2 separate regions of the Homo sapiens genome follow, and region 2 is linked to region 1. Evidence: fine-mapped expression QTL. Tissue or cell type: lung. Region 1 holds a variant in brackets; the other region holds the start of a gene. All regions are shown on one strand. Distances are between the middles of the regions.

Region 1 (8,781 bases):
TATTAAGAATCATCTCAAAGGGTTCTTTTAACAAATGAATTTTGAGATACCACTACCCAGAATTTTCCTTCATCAAGAAGCCCTTAGATGATTCCAAAAAAAGAACATTTGAAATAAAACCAATCTGGTGACAGAGAAAGATAAATATATTAACCACTTCAATTGATAGAAATAAGAATTTTGTTCTTCAGACTGGAAAGAAGGAAGGAAGCATACTGCCAAGAAAACCTTGACACTTGCCCTGAATTTGGAGGAACAAACAGGAGTCCCCAGTGAAGAGGATAGCTATGGGAAAGCATTTGCAACAGGAGAAACAATGCTTTGGAGATCCTGGAGGCAGTAAACCACATAGTTCACTTCATCCTTTGACATCTTTCCTAGAGAGTAGAAGGCAGGGAAGCTGGCTGGAGAAGTGAAGTTCTGAGGAGCCTGGGCTGCTGAGCCAAATACACTGAAGGTTGCTCTGATTGATGCAGTACGTGATATGATCTTTAGGAGAACAGTGTGGTAGGTGGACTGCAGAGACACTAAATGGAAACAGAATGAGGCCCTGGCTATACCTGCAGTGATTGTGTGGCCTGAGAAGCTGCAAAAAAACTAGGGGAGTGTCTCTGAGGAATTTGCAGGGACATAAGAATTTCAAGAGGAAGGGGGTAATTGGTTCTGTCAATGCTAAAAATAAGATGTGAAAAAGTGTCAGATAGTCTCCTAAAAACCTGTGGCTCATGCAGTTACTTTCTGTAACTTCCTTTTTCCTTCCCCAACCTTAAAATATAAGGGTGAAGTCAAGTCATTCCTTTATGACATAGGGCAGTGGTCTCATATTACTATCACACGAGAGTTTTAAAACATCATTTGCTGAAGCCACACCTTGAGCTATTATTATGTCTCAATCTCTGAAGGTATGGCCTAAGCATCAGTATTTTTTTGAAGCTCTTCACAAGATTTCAATGTACAGGAAGATCAAGAAACACTGACTTAGAGAGTGAGGAACATTTCTTTTCATGTACAGAGTTCCAACACCATTTAAGTGTTTCAATTTCCCAGTAGTAATATTTATCACCCACCAATAATATTCATCAGACTTTACTTTAGGAAATATATATCTTAGAAAATCCTACAGATAGATAGATAGATAGATAGATAGATAGATAGATAGACAGATAGATACAGATATACACATACATATATGTATATATGTATATATCATAGAACTAAATGAATATATAAATACGTGTGTGCACACATTTAGTTTTCACAATTTCATTAGGTAAACAATATATGTAGTATATATAAAAATATACATATATTTTTTGACATATATAAAATATATATATAAGTATACATATATATATATATATATATATATATATTTTTTTTTTTTTTTTTTTTTTTTTTTTTTTTTTGAGATGGAGTCTCACTCTGTTGCCCAGGCTGGAGTGCAGTGGCGCGATCTCGGCTCACTGTAACCTCCGCCTCCCGGGTTCAAGAGATTCTCCTGCCTCCGCTTCTGGAGCAGCTGGGATCACAGGCACCCACCACCACACCCGTCTAATTTTTGTATTTTTTAGTAGAGACGGGGTTTCGCCATGTTGGCCAGGCTGGTCTTGAACTCCTGACCTCAGGTGATCCGCCCTCCTCAGCCTCCCCAAGTGCTGGGATTACAGGCGTGAGCCACCGCTCCCGGCTGACAACAATATTAATAGGTATTTTGCAGAGAAGGAAAAGGAAGAAATTGAATTTACATGGGTTTCCAAGGTCCCATGGCTAATAAGTGGCAGAGCTGGAAGCCAACCCCCATAGGCCAGTTTCAAAGGCTTTGCCATCAATTGCTTAAGGATTTTGGAGACTACTTTTTGCTTTCTTAGAAAGGGTGGTAGGAAAACAAGGGAATCTGAATCATACAAATACCAGATTAAGTATAAAACCACTAACTAGGTAACCTCAGGAAAATCTCAAGATTCCTGAGACTGCCGCAAAGATCCACAGCTCTGTTGTTAATAGTGTGCAACGTGGATAATCAAGAGTTAATTATGCTTAGTTTCTTTACCATATAAACAAATCAATACCACTTCTGATGTACCTCAATAGTGGAAAAAGCATTTAACATTCTGCAATGAATCACTGCAAATTGGTATGTTGCTTTGGCCCTAAGTGTATGTGTTGGGGAGCGGCAGGAGGGAATTTGAGCTGCACAAATACCCAGTAAACCAAAAAGGTGCTCAGGCATTTAGAAACTCACCAGGTGCCAGAGGGGGCATGACACGCAGGATCCAGGAGAAGATTTTGATTTCCTCTGTGCTCTGAGCTCTTTAACCTGGACCTGAGGAATATCTGCCCAGCAACCCGTCAAAAGGAAGCAGTGGGAAAAAAAGCACACAGCTGTGGCTGGTGACCATTTTAACCTCAAAAAAACCACAGCTGCTGGTTGTTACCAAATGCCAAAAAATCACTAAACCTTGTTGATTGTTTCATGTAACTTATGTCTAGCCTTCTAGCCTTTAAAATTTTTCATTTACAGGAGGAGCAGTATTGAAAATAAATAAAATTAAATTAAAAAATAAAATAAAATAAACTTTTCATAGCTTTCCCGGAGTTTTTCAAGTTTATTTTATATTATATTATTGTTAAACGGGGTCTAATCTTGGTACCAGTACTTTAAATTATTCTCTTAGAATAAATATTCACAATTTCTTTCTCTTGATGCCAAAAAGAGATTAATTAGGGCTGGAATTATTTCCAATGGCATTTCAAAAATTCTTAGCTCCTCCTCTCCCTAGGCTTGAGCATTGTTATAAAATTAAAAATAGCCCATTTTGGAAAGTCCAAGATTCTTTAAAACTGAAGTCTCTTATAAAAAATCAAGAGGAGGCTGAGAGGAGGCTTCTCTCTCATTTGCCAATTTCTTTAAAACAAGAGGCACCGTTGTCAGTACTTTTAAAGTGCTGAAAAAGACTACAAGCCTGCAAAAGAAGGCTGAGTGTTTCATTCTAGAGCTGTTTTTTCTTAGTGAACATCCATTGACTTCATTTGGAGGTTGTATCTGAGTGAGCCCTCTTTCTTACAAGTAAAGTAAAACACCAGTCAGCTGAACTCTTTATCAAACATACTCTTCATTTATCTCTTGATGACACAATGTCACTCTTCCCTTTCAAGCTGAGCCTTCAGATTCTCCAAAGGTTTCGACCTCCCACAAAGTCTTCACGAGGTGACTCGCTCTTCAAGGAGCCCTGCTATTATGCCATATGGTGTTATGACTCAGCAAACCTGCAGTCCCTTCTACTTCCGAGACCTGGAAAGACATGTTCTAACTGCTTCTGGATGAACCAGGCATACCAGTATTAGTTCATGCCATCCAAAAAGAAACTTCATGTTCTTTTTAACTCTAAATTACTAAAGCTAAAAGTTACAGTCTTCTGATCTTCAAGAGTTCCCAGAATTATGCTCTCTGGTGATTAAACTCCCTTCCCTAAAAAGTGGCTCATCCTAATAGTGCAATGTTCACTATGTGTCAGCTTTAAAATTCTATGCCTGTAAAATACTCGAAGTTTAGAGAATGCATCTTTTTTCAAACGCTTCTTAACTTTCTGAGGGTGAGGACCAATTTAACAGGATTACATGTAAATTGGCCTTTCAGCTATGACCATTTCAAATCTTGGAAAATTTTTCTCCTGCATACGCTTTATCCTTAAGTAAAGATACATAGTATCTATTTAGAGATCTAATCACAACTTTATAACCTTTAAAATATTTATTCTATAAATTAAATACCAAATATGAACATATAGCGTGTACACATATGCATATATGTACATATGTATGTGTGTGTATATATAGGTATACACATATACATAAAATCTCAAACAAAGAAATTGTCAATAAGATTAAACTGTGGCTCCCTGGAGTATACGAGAAGTTATATACATGAGCTAGAACTCAATCAGTAATTTGGAATTGAAGATTGGCTTAGGAAATAAGAAACTTCATACTTTATACTAATTTAAGTAAAACACTTTGCTTGAATATATTTAAGTATATAGACTGTTAGATGAATTCTATTTTTAATCTAATTAAATTAGAAGTAACATGCATTAGTATATTAGCTAAATCTCATTTATTTACAGTGAATCGAAGTTGGACATATTCCTTGAAAATATTTTGAAAATTATTTTAATGATTAAGAATCAATTAAAAAGAGATTTTACTTTATTTGCTAAAGAATGACTTTCAATAGTTTAGTCTCAAAATTGTTACACATGATTACCAGTGTGAAATATATGAGCAAAGATAAAAATAATACCTCCCTGCCAAAAACAGCTCCTGTTAGAAAATATTTTATTAACTAATCAAATAATCTTCTGGTAAATACAGAGAGATGTTTAAAGGTTGCAATCGAATTACAAGGACACAATAAAACTAAAGGAAATGCAAGAATGCCAGAACCGTTTATTAATAAAATACTGATTTATACAATTGATATTAAAAATGACAGTTATTTTGTCGTTTTCTTTTGAAAATAAGCAAATTATGCCTGTA[A/C]TCTCAGCACTTTGGGAAGCCGAGGTGGGCGGATCACGAGGTCAGGAGATGGAGACCATCCTGGCTAACATGGTGAAATCCTATCTCTACTAAAAATACAAAAAATTAGCCAGGCATGATGGAACGCGCCTGTAGTCCAGACTACTCGGGAGGCTGAGGCAGGAGAATCACTTGAACCCAGGAGGTGGAGGTGGCACTGAGCAGAGATTGCGCCGAGATTGCGCCACTGCACCTCAGCCTGGGCAACAGAGCGAGACTCTGTCTCAAAATAAACAAACAAACAAACAAACTATTATTTAAAAATTAATGTAAAATAATGGATTAGAAATTATTACAATTTACTTCTTCAGCTTAATCATGTATGATTTCCGTACAGTTTTCACTTAGAAGACAATAAGAGAGAAGATGCGTATCGTCAAATGAGTTTAGATTTTTAAGTGCTCAATTTTCCAATACAGTGCAAAGAAACTGAAATTGCTTTCGGTCAGAAGAAAATAAGATAAAATTCAGTAAAAAGGAAATAAAGCCAAATGCATTCAGTTGGAACGGAACTCCGCCAGTTAGTGACTACAGCGTAAGGATTGTTTTCTTTCATACGTTCTTAGTCTGCCCCCTTGTGGGCTCCAGAAAGCTGTTACCCAGCATAAGCTAACGTGATAAAGTTAGATATCCAATAAAATCATGTTTTAATAATTCCTTTAATGTGGTTTAGAAAAATGTCTAAACTTGCTTTAGTTTATCAAACAAAAGCATTTAAAATTATAAATAAATATCTCAAAACTTACACCTCTAAATAAATTGAAAGAAGATATTTCCTTTAATTCCTAAAATTCTTTTTAAGAATGAAATTACCCATCCTGGGCAACATAGCGAGAGTCTGTCTCTAAAACAATTAGCCAGGGATGGTGCCATAGTCCCAGCCTCTCAGCAGGCTGAGATGGCAGGATCCTTTGAGCCAAGGAGTTTCAAGTTTCAGTGAACTGCCATCATTATGCCACTGTGCTCCAGCCTGGGCTGAGAGAGGGAGGCTCCATCTCTCAAAAGAAAAGAAAAAGAAAATAAATTACTATATAAGCCTCATAGAAATTGGAACTATAAAGCAATTGTCAAAAAATGCTATCTGAAACAATCTAGCTGAGGTGGGTTTTTTTTGCATTTATTTAATGTTCCATGTATAGAATGGAAAGCATTTATGACTTCTTTGTAAAAATAAACTGCATTACTATTATTGGAGAGACGAAGAGGCACATTAACTACATTATCTTCTTGTAATTGAAAATTGCTCCGATGGAGATACTGCAAGTTTGAAGATCTGAACTTCATTGCCGATGTCATTGTCATTCCTTGATTTGCCTAAACTTAAAATTTCAACATTTGTAGATTAAAAGGTATCCTGTGATAACCATCTCCTGGCATATTTTATAACTAATAGATAAATATTGTTGATGTCTTTTAAATTAAATTCTTAAATTTTTAGTATTTAAATAGGCAATCACTAGGTAACTATAATCAATATGCTTGATTTTGTTTTTTATTACATATTCCATATGTTTCATTTTATCTTCTACATTACACACAGTCCTTCCATGAATTCAGGCATATGTTGTTTTTTCATTTTTGGCAGTACAATACACTTTTGGCTTTCCATGTTTAATTGGATGAGTAGATTCTTACAAAAAATAAGACAAAGAATAAACACTAATATTTCGATTAATTATAATACCATTTTCTCAAGTAGTGTTCCAGGATTCAGTATGACCATAACCTTTAAGTAAAGTTCAATACATTGTTTCAAGATAGAAAGCAAAGTAAAACCAGGTGGTACAAACTAAGTTACATGCTCATACAGGCCCACGCGCATGTGTGCACACACACACACATACACACACACTCACAATTTTCTTACCAACACATCTCTCTGTAACTCTTTGGTGATCCTGGACAAGGTTCCCACGCCTCTTTGGATTTAGTTTTCTCGCCTATGAAATGGTACTATATCAGCTGGTCAATATTTTTTTGAACTGAGGTCTACAGATCTGCTTATGTGTCCACAAGTGGTCCAGTAGAATTTTAAAGTACAGTTTTCCCTCAGTATCTCTAGGGAATTGATTCCAGGACCTCTCACAAATACCAAAATCCATTGATGCTCAAGTTCCTGTTATAAAATGGCATAGTATTTGCAAATACCAAAATCTATTGATGCTCAAGTTCCTGTTATAAAATGGCATAGTATTTGCATATAATCTAAGCAAATCCTCCTCTATAGATTATATGCAAATCCTCCTCTATTCAGTCATGAATCACTTAACCATAGGGATACATTCTGAGAAATGTTGTTAAGCAATTTTTTTGTTGCGTGAATTTCATAGAATGTACTTACACAAACCTAGATGATATAGCCGACTATACACCTAGGCTATATGGTACAGCCCTATCACTTCTAGGCTGCAAACCTGTACAGCATGTTAGGGTACTAAATACCACAGGCAATTGGAATACAACTGTATTAGTGTATCTAAACATATTTAAACATAGCAAAGGCAATGCCATGCACTATAATGTTAAAATGGCTGTGATATCACTAGACAGTAGAAAATTTTCAGCTTCATTAGAATGTTATGGGGCCACCATTGTATATGTGGTCTAAAACATCAATATGTAGCACATAACTGTACTTTAAATAAGCTCTAGGTTACTTATAATACCTCATCCAATGTAAATGATATGTAAATAGTTATTATACCATGTTGTTTAAGGAATATGACAAGAAAAAATGTCTGCATATGTTTAGTGCAGATGCGATTCAAAAAAATGTATTTTTGATCCAGGATTGGTTGAATCCACAGATGTATAACTCATGACTATGAAGGGATGACTGTGCTTTGTTTTTATAATTATGGTAATATAAACACATACACAAATTGTGGATCATTTAGATGACCACTTTATAACTGGGCACAGCCATGAAACCAAAACCTAAAGTCGAGGTTTTGAATTTTTAAAATTGAAAAATCTTTGTAGTCCTCATAGGTACTCTTGATAGTCCACAAGTGCCCAAATTTGAGAAACGTTTCTCAAATTCCTTTCAGCATTTAATATTGATTTAAAAATGTGATGCTCACTTGCTTTAAATGAAGCTACCAGCAGAAAGCAGCACACTGAAAAAAAAAAAGACAAAATTGCTTTTCCTCTATTAGGTTTGTGTGCTCAACTCCTATAAGCATCTTGAAAGAAGTAGAGCGATTTAGACGATAATGCATTTGACGTCTAAACCCAAGCAGTAACAGTGTTTGTGAAGGAAAACCTCCAGGAAGAGCTTGCTAAAATTTCTAACAAAATGATGTTAATCTATAGTGCTCTTTGTCAGCATGTAACAGAAGAGATGTCATAAACTCCGAGAGAAAAGAAAAGTCAAAACATTAAAAGGATTCGTGACATCAATGATACAGAAGCAAAGAATGTTAAACATTTCAAGGAAATACACTCCACAAACACAAAAGTCGCTCCCTTGTGGTTTCAAAATAATTGAACCTATGCAAAAATGAAGTTATTAATGAATGGACTGAACATTATTAAGAGCAATTTATCAAAAGAAAGATAGATTGCTGATCAGTTGCAGAATGAACATACTCCAAACGTAAAGATGGTTCAGAGTATTTGGACTAATCAATTGTAATAACTCAAAGCAGAAGGAAATAGATGGCAAGTAGAAAGACTAATATCTGTTGAGCTTCTAATGTGTGTTTATTTTAATCAAATAATTACTAAGATCATCTACTAATAACAATCATGGGTTCAAACTCTGTCTCTGCTAACAAATAGTTCAAAGCCCACAAATTTGTAAAGATCACTAAAAAAAAAAAGCAGAATTCAAAAATTGTCAAATACAGAATTCTTATTTTTGGGAGCCAATATAATTAGTTACCAATATTTATTTTTTGTTTGTTTTGGGGGTTTTTCATTTTATTTTTTGTTTTCTGGGTTTGTTTTTGTTTTGAGACAGGGTCTCACTCTGTCATCCTGGCTAGAGTGCAGCAGTGCAATTATGGCTCAGCCTTATCCTCCCCAGGCTCAGGTGATTCTCCCGTATCAGCCTCTGGAGTGGCTGGGACTACAGGCGTGTGCCACCATGCCAGGCTAACTTTGCTATTTTCTGTAGAGACCAGGGTTTTGCCATGTTCCCAGGCTGGTCTTGAACTCCTGGGCTCAAGGGATCCTCCCGACTCTGCCTCCCAAAGTAGAGGG
Region 2 (14,672 bases), 21 kb before region 1:
GATGACCTCCTTCTTTGCAGCCCCTCCCTAGAGGACTCCAAACTCACACCATCACCCTACTAAACTCTCTTTCTAGCAAAAGATATAGGGTCTCCCCCTCCAAAGCCCAACTATCTGCCCCAACAGTAACATACTTAGGAGTCCAACTCTCCCCTGGGGCCCAAGCCATGACCCCAGCACAAGCAACCTTAATAAACAGCTTGCCTCTGCCTTCCTCAAAAAATGAAATTCTCTCTTTCTTAAGACTAGAAGGTTTCTTTAGAATATGGATTCCCAACTTTGCCCTCCTGGCTCAACCCCTCTACGAAGCAGCCAAAGGCCCCCTCAATGAACCCCTAAGCCCCATACACAACATACTTCCCAGTTTCTGTAAACTCCAAACTGCTCTCATCACTGCACCTGCCCTGTCCTTACCCGACCTCTCCCAACCCTTTGTTCTCTATACCACCAAAAATCAAGGAATAGCTCTTGGGGTCTTAGGGCAACAAAAGGGAAATCCTCCTTCCTTTGACCCTGTAGCATATCTCTGTAAACAACTAGACAACACTGTCAAAGGGCAGCCAACCTGTCTTAAAGCATCATCAGCAGTGGCCGTTTTGCCTCTGGAAAGCAAAAAACTAACATTTGGCCAAAGCACCACCATTCACAGCCCTCACAACTTACAGGATCTCCTCTCCTCCTGGGCATTAAGCTCCCTCTCTCCTTCCCAAATTCAGTCGCTCTACGCCCTCTTTATCAAAAATCCTGAATTCAGCCTTGCCAAAAGTGCCCCCCTCAACCTGGCATCCCTACTTCCCATATCCTCTTCCCCTCCTACTCATTCTTGCACTGACATTCTGGATCACTTGCAGCCACAATTCCCTAACATCTCCTCCAAGCCTCTCACTAATCCAGATGACCAACTATTTATAGATGACTCCTCTTCCAGAGCCCCCGGCTCTCCCAAAATTGTTGGGTATGCAGTAGTTACCTTAAACCATGTAATTGAGGCTAAACCCCTACCCCCAGAAACCTCCTCCCAGAAAGCAGAACTCAGCTCTCACAAGAGCCCTAACCCTCTCCAAGGACAAACAGGTCAACATATACACAGACTCCAAGTATGCCTACCACATTCTTCATTCTCATGCCGCCATCTGGTAAGAGAAAAAATTCCTTACTGCCAAAGGAACCCTCATTACTAATGGCCCCCTTATTTACCAACTCCTTCAGGCTGCACACCTCCCAACTGAAGCAGGAGTCATACACTGTCGAGGACAGTAAGCAGGTTCAGATGAAATCTCAAGAGGAAATAGGCTGATGAGCACCGAAACAGGCCTCTCTTTCTCCTATCCCTGCCCCCATCCTCCTTGTCACCCCAGCAGTCCAACCCAGATACTCTCCCACCAAAAACTCTTCACTACTACAGCAAGGAGCCTCCCTTCAAGGGGACTGGATAATCAAAAACCAAAAGCTCATTCTTCCCCAAGAGCAAACCAAGGAAATTCCAACATCTCTTCACCAATCCTTCCATATCAGTGGGCGCCCCCTGTACCTACTCCTTCACCCTTATTTCTCCTCCCCCCATCTATTCACCTCACTAAAGGACATAACCTCAAACTGTCATATATGCTCTGTTACTTCCTCCCAAGGGGCCCTCCGCCCTCTCCTCATCCCTACACATCAGCTCAGAGGAACACTCCCAGGGGAGGACTGGCAAGTAGACTTCACCCACATGCCTCCTGTCAAAAAAACTAAATATTTTCTTACTCTCATAGACACTTTTTCAGGTTGGGTAGAAGCATTTCCTACCCCTTCAGAAAAATCTCTCAAATTCTCATAACAAAAATCATCCCTAGATTTGGTCTCCCTTGTTCCATACAATCAGATAATGGGCCTAGCTTCATCTCCCAAATTACCCAACAAGTCTCTCAATCCCTTGGTGTTCAGTGGTGCCTCCATATCCCATACCAGCCCCAGTCATCTGGAAAAGTCCAAAGGGCAAATGGAATTCTCAAAACTCAGTTAACCAAACTCACACTTGAGGTTAAAAAACCTTAGACCTCCATTTTACCCATAGCACTGGCTCATATCAGAGCCAGTCCAAAGGCCCCCTCCTTCCTCAGTCCATTCGACTTAATGTATGGATGCCCTTTCCTCTTACAAAACAGACCCCCTCCTGAGTATCAATTAGAATACCTCCCAACACTCTCCCTCATCCATCATCTCCTCTGCGAACAAGCTGACCAGGCCCCCACAAAACCCCACCAAGGCACCACTGACCAAACACTCCTTCCAGGAGAATATGTCTTCCTAAAAATCAACAAGTCTCATGCCAAAGTGCGAAATCCCTTTCCAAGTCCTTCTCGCTACCTCCACTGCAGCCAAACTTTGAGAACACAAGTCTTGGTACCATCTTTCCAGGTTAAAAAGAGCACCTGCAGCTGACCCATCACCAACTAACCAACCAGCTGTTCCCTGCAAATACTCCAGCACTCTTCTCAGACCAATTCGACTCCGCCTAACGCCCATGCCTGAAGACCCCACTCTTCCCTCATGAACCATAGCAGATAAGTTATCACCCCTTACCATTAAGTATCCAAACCCTTATTAATGGAAATCATCCATTACGCTGCCCTTGCAGGAATCACCCTACTTACTCTACTCTTTGCCATAGGAATATATACTGTCTTGCCTCCTGGGTGGAATTTCAGACAAAAAAAACTCAATATTCGTAACCTCTTGCCTCATAATCCTCCTCATAGCAGGTATAATAGCCACCACCAACAGATAGTGGCCCCTCCTAAATGTCCTGTCTTTGCCCATCCTGGCATTTCACACTCTTCCTTCACTGCATCACAGAAAACCTTTCATGGTCCTACCCAGAACATCCCACCCTCACAGCATTCCTTGATTGGATCACCAATCTTATATTTCAAGGGGATTTACAGGAATTCACTCCAGATGAAGCCGAATTCTTTACCTTTACACTTGCTCTCTGTCTATTTACTCCTTCTTCCCTCCTCCTTCTCGCTACCGCTCCACCTACAGCGCACCATTCCACAGGCACATATGATACTCAGTCAAACTAACCCCTCCCTGGCCAAGGCCTGCTGGTACACCCCTCAGAAACCGTATCAAAAGATGTCTTCCCAGCTCCCCTCAAAGACTGGGTTCTCAGCAATATGACCCTCCACCCCCGCTACCAAAGTTTTGGAGAAGTAAATGCACTCAAAAGTTACAAACTCAATCTTACCACACATACTGCAGAACACAAGGTTATCTTAGGAACACTTACCCCAGACTCAGAACTCAGTCAACCAGCATCCCTATGCATAAAGCGTGAACTTTCCAAAGGAGTGCCCCTAGGCACCCTCTCCTCTAGCTTATGCAACTGTACCCTAACACTCACTCCCCCGACAGGCATCCAAACAATAACAGAAAAAAACCCCACACAAACTCTCAAAATCTCCAACCCCCGTCAGACCCAAGTCACGGGAGAAACATCAGGATTCTGCAATAACTGACACAGGCCCTGCATAGAAATCGCAGGGTGGAACACTTGCCTAAACCCCGTCCCCACTTCCCAATGCATGGAAATCCCACTGCCTAACACACCCTCAAACAAACTACTTATTGACACAAAACGCTTCTTATGGACTCAGCCTGGGTGACAGAGGAAGATTCTGTATCAAAAAATATATATATATACACACACACATATATATGTATATATATGTGTGTGTGTATATATATAATTTGTTTTTTCCATGATAAGCTATTTTAAAACAAAGATTCTGAATTCTGTATGTTTTCTATGGATAATTTTGTTAGAGTTAAAGAATTTGTTCCCGAGTTATTACTCAATACATGCTGTTTATTGGAATACAGATAACAGCATGATCATTGACAAACTTTGCCCTAGTTTCCTATTACTCATTAAACCTTGAAGTTGCACTTAACATGACTGTATCTGGATAACAGATAAAATTTTGGCCTTATTATGCCAACCCTTAAACTAAGTGAGCAACTCTGTTTTCAAAGCTTTTGGGTGGAGCTGAAGCACACTGCTTATTAAAGTACACTATTCAGGCATATCATGTAGGTTTACTTTCTGTGTTTCTAGAGACCAAGAAGCGGGACGTTCACCATGGGAAGAAAATCGCTGTACCTTCTGATTGTGGGGATCCTCATAGCATATTATATTTATACGCCTCTCCCAGATAACGTTGAGGAGCCATGGAGAATGATGTGGATAAACGCACATCTGAAAACTATACAAAATTTGGTAAGTTTGGAATTTTATGAATTCAGATGTGCATACACCACCATTTGACCCAGAGAATTAAGTTTTTCAAGATTCTATTCTTTTGATTTATTGACTTATTCATCTTTTAAAATAACTGCTGTGGCCTTTGACAATGTGTTACTTAGAAATGTTGTTTGTTTTCTGTCTTATGTATTGGAATCATGTTAAAAAAATATCAAGAACAGCAAGCAAGGAGTCATTTGAATAGGTTTTGCTAAAAAGTACTTTGTTTAGGTAGCTTTAATATCACGATAGTGGCTCTCCTTTGAAATTCTTATCTTAGGTATGGTTTGTTCCTTAAATTTTATACTCAAATTAGAGATCATCTGATTATGCAGCACTGTGTTAGTTACAGATTTTTATGCACTTATCTTTGGGATTCAGAATATAGACTAAGGACACGTAAATAAGTTCTCAAGAAAAGATTCAATGGGCAGGCTGGTTGGCACATGCCTAGGGTTAACCACGAGACGGCACAATATGCACAAATGAGAGGGGGAGGGAGACCTGGGTGTCCTGGCAACTGGGCAGCTTGGATGCTGGCAAATTAAAAAGGTGTAGCTCTCTCTGGATCCTTGATGATATTTTACTATTACTTCTTTGGTTATTTTATTATCTTCATTAAAACAAATCTCTTTTCAGAACTTAAACCAGATAAATGTTGTAACTCCTGGATTAATCTTTTATTTTGCATTTATTCAACAATTCAACTGTCTCAAATCCTATTAGGCAAACAAGTAGTCTATCCCCACACAGTTGACATTCTAGTGGTGGAGAAAAAAATAAATTAGAATTAAATGAATAAATGATTTTAGTTCATGAGAAGTACCTTTAAGGAGGTAAGATGGAAGAAAAGAGAGTAATTTGGGCAGAAGGCAAGAGTGGGCTACTGTATGCATGGTGAGAAAAAGCCATTCTGAAGAGGAAACAGCTACTTAGGGACCAGAAGAATGAAAAGAAACCAACCATTCTAAGTGCTAAGAAAAATGTTTTCCAGCAGAGACACCAACAAGTAAAAACACCCCAGCTACAGAATATTGACAAGTCCAAGAAATCATATGAAACATTTGGGTTTAATGGGGAAATTGTTGCAATTAGTTTGGAGAGGTTAGAAGCCATATCATACAGTGCTTTGTGGGCACTGGTAGTAAGTTTTGATTTAATTCTGTATGTGATGCAGAGCTATTAAAGAGCTTTAAGAAAGGGACACATTTTTTTCCCTCATATTTGCTGTCTGTGCTACAATATGTGAGAGGTCTTTGATTTTTTTCTTGGAGTCTTTATATTAATTTTTATTTATTTAAGCAATTATATATATATTCTTCTCTGGTAGCCTTTTAATTAATTAATTCATTCATTTACTTACATTCTGTCCACAATTTATGAAAGTAATGTATTTTCAGAGCTCTCAGTCGATATACCTTTTAAAAGTTGTTTTAATGCCCTTTCTTATTCCTGAATTATCTGCTTGTTTGTTTGCTTGCTTTTTTGTGATCGTTTATGCTCCTGGTTTGTCCCTTTTTTCCTGATTAGTTTTGCTGGCTTCTCTGAAATGTCTGGCAATCTTTGAGTGTTCATACCCTTTATTAAAGGATTATGTTATGAACATTACATCAAGAATCAAACTACTGGATTGAGAATCCTGGTAAATATCATTTACTAGTTGTGTAGGCATGGACGACATATTTAACCTTCCTGGGCTCACTTTCCTCATATCTGACATGGATAAGAAAATGTTATCTTCCTCCCATATAAGCAAGTTGTTAATATTACTGAGATGACTACAATAGAGTGCTCAGAACACTGACTCATTCTACAGTGAAAGGATGGGCTGCAGGCAGGCAAGCTGCCCTCCCTTTTTCTCCCACTCATTCCTTCCCTCCCAACCCTGACTCCCAGCTCCCATGTGCAACCAGCTCCATAGCCACACCTCACTGCACCTCCCTATTTCTAAACTAAACCAGTTCCTCGACCTGCCAGGGTTTTTCCTTTTCTTATTTGGTTAGCAAAAGACTTAGGAAAAGGTATTTATTTCAAGCCTCAGACAAAATTGCTTTTCCAGTTTCTACTCCCAAGTAGCTTTTTGTAATCACCTGCTGTTCGCTCCCAAAGTACTTTGTACAGAGCTCTGTAATAGTATTTACATTGTTTTGTAACCATTTATTTGTCTTTCACACTTAACTCTGAGATTCTTGAGAAGAGCATTTGTCTGGTTCATCTCTGAAACCGTAAAGCTTGGTAGAGAGCCTGACACATTTTAGTGACATAGGAACTAAATTAGTAGCAGGGGTCACAATAAAACTTCATCTTTGCCCTCTGAAAGTTGCTGAAAGTCAACTGACAGGTCTGGTTAATAGAAGAAAAAGGCATATACATTTTTAGCATACATAATAGACTTACAAAATATAAAATCTCAAAGAAATGGCCAGATGGTTGACACTTTTTTTTTACTATCTTGAGGTTACAGAAAGAATGGTGGCTTGGCCAAAAAATGATATGGTGGCAAGACAGGTTATGGGAAGGAGAGAAGAGGAGACATGGTTAGCAAAAGTGGTCTTGTTATATAGATGGATCCTCACAGGTAGCAGCCCTCAGAGAGAACAGATGGTAAAAATTTCTTTCAGACTTTTAAAGGTGTCAGATTCTCAGTTGATTTTTCCTAGATCTGGACAAATGAAGGCTCTCAGAAGCCATCAATGCAGATTTTCTCTACAGATGCAAATCACCTCCACAAAAGAAAAGCTTTCCAGCTAATCTTGTATTTCCAGCCCTTCTGAAAAGCTACCTTGCATTATGTCAAGGAGATATATTTTGGGATGAAATATTTTTATTTCCTTCACAGTGTATTCCCTCTTTTTTAAGAACCACCCTAGGCATAACCTTTGCATTTCTGGTTTCTTTTAAAAGGACCAAGCAGGATTCATGCATGAAAATTTAGTTCATTCCATTTGAGTTTATTAAGGGTTAATGTCTACCTATAAGTCCATAGATCTCTTTGCCATTTGATACTTGAATTTCAGGAGGTTTGTGAATTTCATTTTTAGGCTACATTTGTGGAGCTCCTGGGACTTCACCATTTTATGGATTCCTTTAAGGTTGTCGGGAGCTTTGATGAAGTCCCACCAACCTCAGATGAAAATGTCACTGTGACTGAGACAAAATTCAACAACATTCTTGTTCGGGTATATGTGCCAAAGAGAAAGTCTGAAGCACTAAGAAGGGGGTTGTTTTACATCCATGGTGGAGGCTGGTGCGTGGGAAGTGCTGGTAAGTGAATGCTTTGAAAAATCTCTGTCACTGAGGTAGTTCGCAGACATTTTACTAAGTCTTCAGTAGGTACACATGCCCTTCGGCATGGACATTACTGCCTCTTTTATCTTCTCGTGCTTTGTTCTGGCAAAGTTTTACTTTTCCCTGAAGCTTTATATCACTCTTTTCCACATATGCATTTCCTCATCAACCCAGGTAGAGGTGAGAAGAAACTTTTTTTTTCTATTTATCACAATTACTCTAAGAAAGCCTTGTTATTTCTATCATTCTCCACTTGATATTACAGAACCATTTAATGTTTTCATCCATTTACTCATATTTACTATATGTCTGGTAATATTTTTATATCTTTGAATATATTTTTGAATTGACAAAATTTCCTCACGCCTGTAATCCCAGCACTTTGGGAGGCCAAGGCGGGTGGATAACTTGAGGTCAGGAGTTTGAGACCAGCCTGGCCAACATGGTGAAACCCTGTATCTACTAAAACAATACAAAAATTAGCCGGGTGTGGTGGCGGGCACACATTATCCCAGCTACTCGGGGGGCTGAGGCAGGATAATCACTTGAACCCAGGAGGCGGAGGTCGCAGTGAGCCAAGATTGCACCGTTGCACTCCAGCCTGGGCAACAGAGCAAGACTCTGCCTCAAAAAAAAAAAAAAAGAAAAAAATCCTGTCTTCCTGTATTCTTGGATCTTACATTCTAATGGAGACAATCTTTGATCGATAAATAAGTAAATAATACAGTGTGTTTTAAAGTGATAAATGTAGGAAATAATAGGCCAGAATGTTAGAAGAAAAACCTTAGACAAATTAAATTTAACAGAGTTTAATTGAGCAAAGAACTACTTGTGGATCAGGCACCCTCCTGAACCAGAATAGGTTCAGAGAGTCACCAGCGCTGCCTCCTGGTCGAAGAAGAGTTATAGGTAGAAAAAGGAAAGTGACATTCAGAAAACAGAAGTGAGGCACAGAAATAGGCGGATTGGTTACAGCTCAGCGTTTGCCTTATTTGAAACTGGTTCCACAAGTTGGTTACCTTTGGCTGAAACTCAGTGATTGGGACAAGAGTAGATTACACATCCAATTAAGTTACAACTCACTGTGTATCAAGAAACCTTTAAAATATGCAAAGAGGCAGCTTTAGGCTAAACTTAGTTTATTTGGCAAGAGTAATCAAGATTGGGTGTGAAGGTTGTATATTTCTTGATGTATAGAATTACAGCAGAAAGACAAAAACATTTAGAAGTGGAAGCACTGGGATAAAAGTCCCAATTATGTGAGAAAATCACCTAACCCACCTGAGTCCTAGGGCTCTTGAGATTCATCTGTTTACCTCCAATGAATACAGTATAGATTAACTGGAGGAGTGAAGATTGGACTGGACCTACTAAGTTAAGAACTCTGAACTCTAGAGAGGAAGAATAAATTAGTCCTGAAAAGAAAAGGTTACAGGCTTGAAATTAAGCAAATTTGTCCATTGATGTGGGAAGTTAGAGGAGAAAAAGACAGAAGATTAAAAAAATAGATCTGAATGAGTGCCTCATTTCTGACAGGATGACTGGGAGGGTGAGAACAGATTTCTGGGGAATGCAAACAAAATTGTTGGGTGAAGGAATAAGCAGACAGCAAAGCACTGAGGTGGTCAAAAATGTCAGAAAATGAAAAGAAAGCCGAAGAAGGTGAGAACCTCAAGAAAGAGGAAATAATAGAAGTCCTGCATCGTGTAGAGATGTCAAGTAAGTAGGATGGAAGTATGTCTCTTGGATGTTGAACTTTCTATGTTAATATTGTTGAGGAGAGACTTGCTGACATGATGGGATATTCACAGAGAAACACATTACAGCAAGCAAAAAGTGAGAGGGAAGAAAATAAAATGGTTAGAATAATTGCTGGCCTTAAAAGGACTTAGTTGTGAAATAAATAAGCAAGAAAATTATAGATTGAAATGAGAGTTAAGTAGGAGAATTTTCTTTTATTTTTGTGCAGGAGAAATATAAACAAGTTGGTAGACTGAAATAAATGAAGGCAATAAGTAGAAATATGTTAGCCAAGTAATGGGCTGGGAGTGTTGACTGATAGATACACATCCCAGAGGAAATGAAAGGGAAGAAGATTTAGAGCACTAGTAAAATAATTGGATATAGATAGGAAGGTTGGAAATGGAAAAAAAGAGCATTACGTCTTCCTCTTAGACAAGAGAAAAAGAGGCAAAGAGAGGCCTCAGCTAGATACATTCTTAAAGTAGTAGTACAGATGCAAGCAGTAAGTTCCAGTGTTTGTTTAAGGGGACCTAGTTCTATTCCACTTATATTCAGGTGCCTTTTCTATTGTCCCATGCAGACTTAGGTGATCCTTCTATATTGCAACAATTCTGTCTATATCTCCTTGGCTCACATATCTGACAACGTATTGATCAAGTTAGCGACTTGTCTTTTTATCTTTGTATACCCATCATCTAAAACAGAGCCAAATCAGTACCTCCTTCCAGTATACACAGTTGGGTTAATCTAGAGAATGAGTCTGACACAGAAGGATCAATGGCAAAATGTGCAAGACAAAAGATAAAAGGGAGGAAGAGCATTAGGAGGTTCACTGGGAAACTTGAATTCCACTGAGTCATGAATGGATGGCTTCTTATAAATACAGTGTTAAATTTGTCTCTCGTATTTTAAGGTAAAATAGAACTGCCAGAACGTGAAAGAAGTGCAGCAGGATTTTTGTGAAGGAAACAGCCTTGTCTTCATTTGTCTGTTTTACTAATATGTTGCTTTTATCCTTTTATTTCAGCTCTAAGTGGTTATGACTTGCTGTCAAGATGGACAGCAGACAGACTTGATGCTGTCGTCGTATCAACCAAGTAAGAGCTGTGCTGTTTGGTTTCCTGGCCAGATGTCTGACATGCCAAGATTTTCTCAGCTTTCTTTTTTTTTTTTTTTTTTTGTGATGGAGTCTCACCCTGTCACCCAGGCTGGAGTGCAGTGGCAGGATCTCGGCTCCCTGCAACCTCCTCCTCCCGGGTTCAAGTGATTCTCATACCTCAGCCTCCCGAGTAGCTGGGATTACAGGCACGAGTCACCACACCCGGCTAATTTTTTTATTTTCGGTAGAGATGGGGTTTCACCATGTTGGTCAGGCGTGTCTTAAACTCCTGACCTCAGATGATCCACCCTCCTTGGCTTCCCAAAGTGCTGGGATTACAGGCGTGAGCCACCGCGCTCAGCCGATTCTCTCAGCTTTCTCAGCCAATGCATGATCATGCCAAAAATAAATGTTTCTCAGATGACACTAAGTAGGCAACTGCAAGTGAGTGCTAGGCTTAACCTGATTAGAGTTGAGAAAAAAAAATCTGTATATGTGTGTACACGTGTTATTTTGGCAAAAAGAAACAGCAAAAAGTAAAAATTTTTTTCACATAAATTCAAACTGTATCATTTATGGATATAATTACCTGGACGGTATTTCCTTTCAACCCTTAATTCCCAGTCTTTAAAAATGAGTGCCCTGGAGTCACAGGATCATCTATAAAAGTGCATCATAAATAATTTCCATCTCAGATGGTCACTGTGAAGAGTAAGTGATAACATCCTTGAAACAGAGTCCAGCGTATATAGCACTTGGTGAGCCTAAAATGTAGGCTATATAATTTTAAATATTTAAAATATAGCGTATAGTTTAGGCTCAACAAGTGTTATACACTGCGCTAAGTATATTAAAAATGTATTATCAAATTAAACAAAATAGATGAGTTCATATAAAATTATGTTAGATAAATAATCCACCTATGGAAAGAGCACTTAGGGACAGCAAAATTAGGGGCGGATTGCTGGGTAGACTCATGCCAGAGCAGTATATATTTAAATTGAAATTTCAGAGAGTAAATGAACAGTTAAAAAAATAACATACTCATCACCATTTGTCAAGTTAAATCATTATTATAAAGTTGGGACATAATCTTGATCAATATTTGGTTGTATGTGATCACTCATAAATATAGTGGCTAGAATAATATTTTGTAAAATGCAATTAGAAAATCCAAGCTTATGCTGTTTTGCATTCCAACTTTATACTTAAAGAGAATTTTCTTAAACATGGCAAGTCAAATTATAGTATAAGACCGACATCTGTGTTTAATTCATTGCAATGACTAATAAATCACTAGTACATGAAAGATAAAATATACTTTAAAATATTTATGCAAATATATGCCTTGCCTTCAAATATTCTCATTTTATTTATATTAAAGATGAAGAACTCCAGTATTCAAAGATAGATAATTTTGGTTATATTTAAATTAAAATGGCCAATAAGCATCTTTCATGTACTTGAAAGATAAAATATACTTTAAAATATTTATGCAAATATATGCTTTGCCTTCAAATAATCTCATTTTATTTATATTAAAGATGAAGAACTCCAATATTAAAAGATAGATAATTTTGGTTATATTTAAATTAAAATGACCAATAAGCACATGAAAAGATGCTCAATATCATTAGTCATTAGAGAAATGCAAATCAAAACCACAATGAAATACCACTTCACACCCACTAGGATGGGTATAATATATATATTTAAAAAGATAATAACAAGCGTTAGTGGGGACATGGAAAAATCAGAATCCTCTATACTGCTGGTGGGAATAAACACTTCGGCAGCTCCTTAAAAGTTCAAACAGAGTTACCATATTGACCCAGTATTTCCATTTCTAGGTGTATACACAAGAGAAATGAAAACATGCCCATATAAAAACTTGTATGTTCACAGAAGCAGTATTCATAAACCTTAAAAGTGGAAGCAACCCAATGTTCATTAACTGATAAATGGATGAATAAAATGTGGTATATCTATACAATTGAATATTTGAAATTCAATTGAATATTTAAATAAAATGTGGCATATCTATACACATATTCAGTTGTGTAAATATACCACATTTTATTCATCCATTTATCAGTTAATTATTCATTTGTTAATAAAAGGACCACTACAGTATGGACAAATTTTGAAAATATTATGCTAGATGAAACAAGCCAGTCATAAATGGAAAGTTTTGTGATTCCATTTATATAAAATGTCCAAAATAGGGCAAATGCATAGAGATAGAATGTAGATTAATGGTTGCCTATGATTGGGTTTGGAGGATGGGGAGAAATGAGAAGTGACTACTAATGGGTATAGGATTTCCTTTTGGCATGAGGAAAATCTTCCAAAATTGATTGTGGCAATGGTTGCACAACTCTGAATATATTGAAAATCACTGAATTGCATACTTATAATGTGTTAATTTTATGGGTTATGAATATCTCGGTAAAATGGTTATATTAAAAATTAAGGGCATACTTTTAATGTGTTAATTTTATAGGTTATGAATATCTCAGTAAAATGGTTATATTAAAAATTCAGGCTGGGTGCAGTGGCTCATGCCTGTAATCCCAGCACTTTGGGAGGCCGAGGCAGGTGGATCATGAGATCAGGAGTTTGAGACCAGCCTGGCCAACGTGGTGAAACTCCATCTCTACTAAAAATACAAAAATTAGCCGGGTGTGGTGGTGGGCACCTGTAATCCCAGCTACGCGGGAGGCTGAGGCAGGAGAATTGCTTGAACCTGGGAGTGGGAGGTTGCGGTGAGCCGAGATTGTGCCACTGGACTCCAGCCTGGGCAACAGAACTAGACTCTGTCTCCCCGCAAAAAAAAAAAATTAAGAAATTATGTTCATCAAAAGACATTAATAGAAGTCTTAAAGTTTGTGTGTGTATATATATGTGGGTATAGACATATGTATACTATAAAAGTTTTTAAATACATATATACATTTTCAAATCCAAAATATAAAAACACCTACCAATTAATAGAAGTATAGGCGAAAGACTCAGAAAGACAATTTACAGAAAAGGATATTGAAATCATCAAACAATATATGAAAATGTACTGTATACATCAGGAAAATACAAATTAAGACTATTATAAGATACCTGCATATACTCGAGATTATAGATAAAATGAGAAAGACATAAGATACCAAGTGTTGGTAAGGTTTTGAATCAACAGCACTTCCATAAGCTCTAGTTTGAGAATAACTTGGTAAACTACTTAGCAAAACTCTTTGACATTATTAAGTAAAGCTAAGCATATATGCATACCTCTGTTATTATCAATAGCACAGGTATGTATCAACAGGAACACAGCCATAGGGCCCCAAAAAACATGTACTAGAATATTCATAGCAGCACTGTTTGTGCCCAAGACTGCAAGCAGCCTAAATCCCCATAACATTTTTTTACTTGGAAAAATATTTATTTAGTATTTATTGTTTGTTTAATTATTTATAAGAACATTTAATATGTGATCTACCCTCTTAGTGAATTTTTAAATTTGCATTATTTTTGACTGTAGGTACAATGTTGTACAGCAGATCTGTGGAGCTTATTCAACTTGTTTGACTGAAACTTTATGCCAGCTGATCAGTAACTCCCCATTTCCTCCTCCCCACAGCCCTTGCAACCATCTTTTCACTCTGATTCTATGAATTTGACTATTTTAGACACCTTATATAAGTGGAAACATACAGTATTTGTTCTTCCATGAGTGGCTTATTTCACTTAGCCCATCAACATGTTAATGGGTAAATGATTTGTGGTATATTCAAACAATAGAGTACTATACAGGAAGACAGAAGCAATGTGAATGAGGCTCAAAAACATAATGTTGAACAATTGAAACCAGATACATAGGAGTATATGCTATATGATTTTATTTATTTAAAGGCCAAAACTAGGCAAAATTAATTTATGCTGTTATGTCAAATTAGTGGATACGTCAGGAATTAAAGAGAGTAAACAAAAGGTTTCTGGGATGCGGGCAATGTTATATTTCATGATCTGAGTGCTGGTTATATGGCTGTGTTTAGTTTGAAAATTAAAGAAATTATATACTTATGTGCACCTCCAGCATGTATTAGGTTGGTGCAAAAGTTATTGCGGTTTTGTCATTACTTTTGCACCAATAATATATTACAGTCTAATCAAAACAAACAAAAAAATGTGTAAACTATGTTTTCTCTCTACAGCTACAGATTAGCACCTAAGTATCATTTCCCAATTCAATTTGAAGAT

What was found. PIP is the estimated chance that this variant, and not a neighbour inherited with it, causes the effect.
Region 2: AADAC starts here. The variant in region 1 is fine-mapped to the expression of AADAC in lung (TOPMed, PIP above 0.99). The same link has a PIP of 0.9 or more in sun-exposed skin.

The regions. Positions count from the first base shown.
Region 1 is chr3:151,834,037-151,842,817 of GRCh38, forward strand. The region is part of intron 1 of AADACL2-AS1 (AADACL2 antisense RNA 1); the gene reads right to left. Among named protein-coding and RNA genes, the nearest start is that of AADAC, 24 kb to the left of the region's middle. The variant A/C (reference allele first, on the strand shown) is at 4,537.
Region 2 is chr3:151,810,037-151,824,708 of GRCh38, forward strand. It overlaps AADAC (arylacetamide deacetylase), which reads left to right and starts at 4,080. Exons shown (of 5, transcript NM_001086.3): 1 at 4,080-4,264; 2 at 7,330-7,552; 3 at 10,347-10,416; 4 at 14,627-14,672. The coding sequence starts at 4,127. The region is part of intron 1 of AADACL2-AS1 (AADACL2 antisense RNA 1); the gene reads right to left.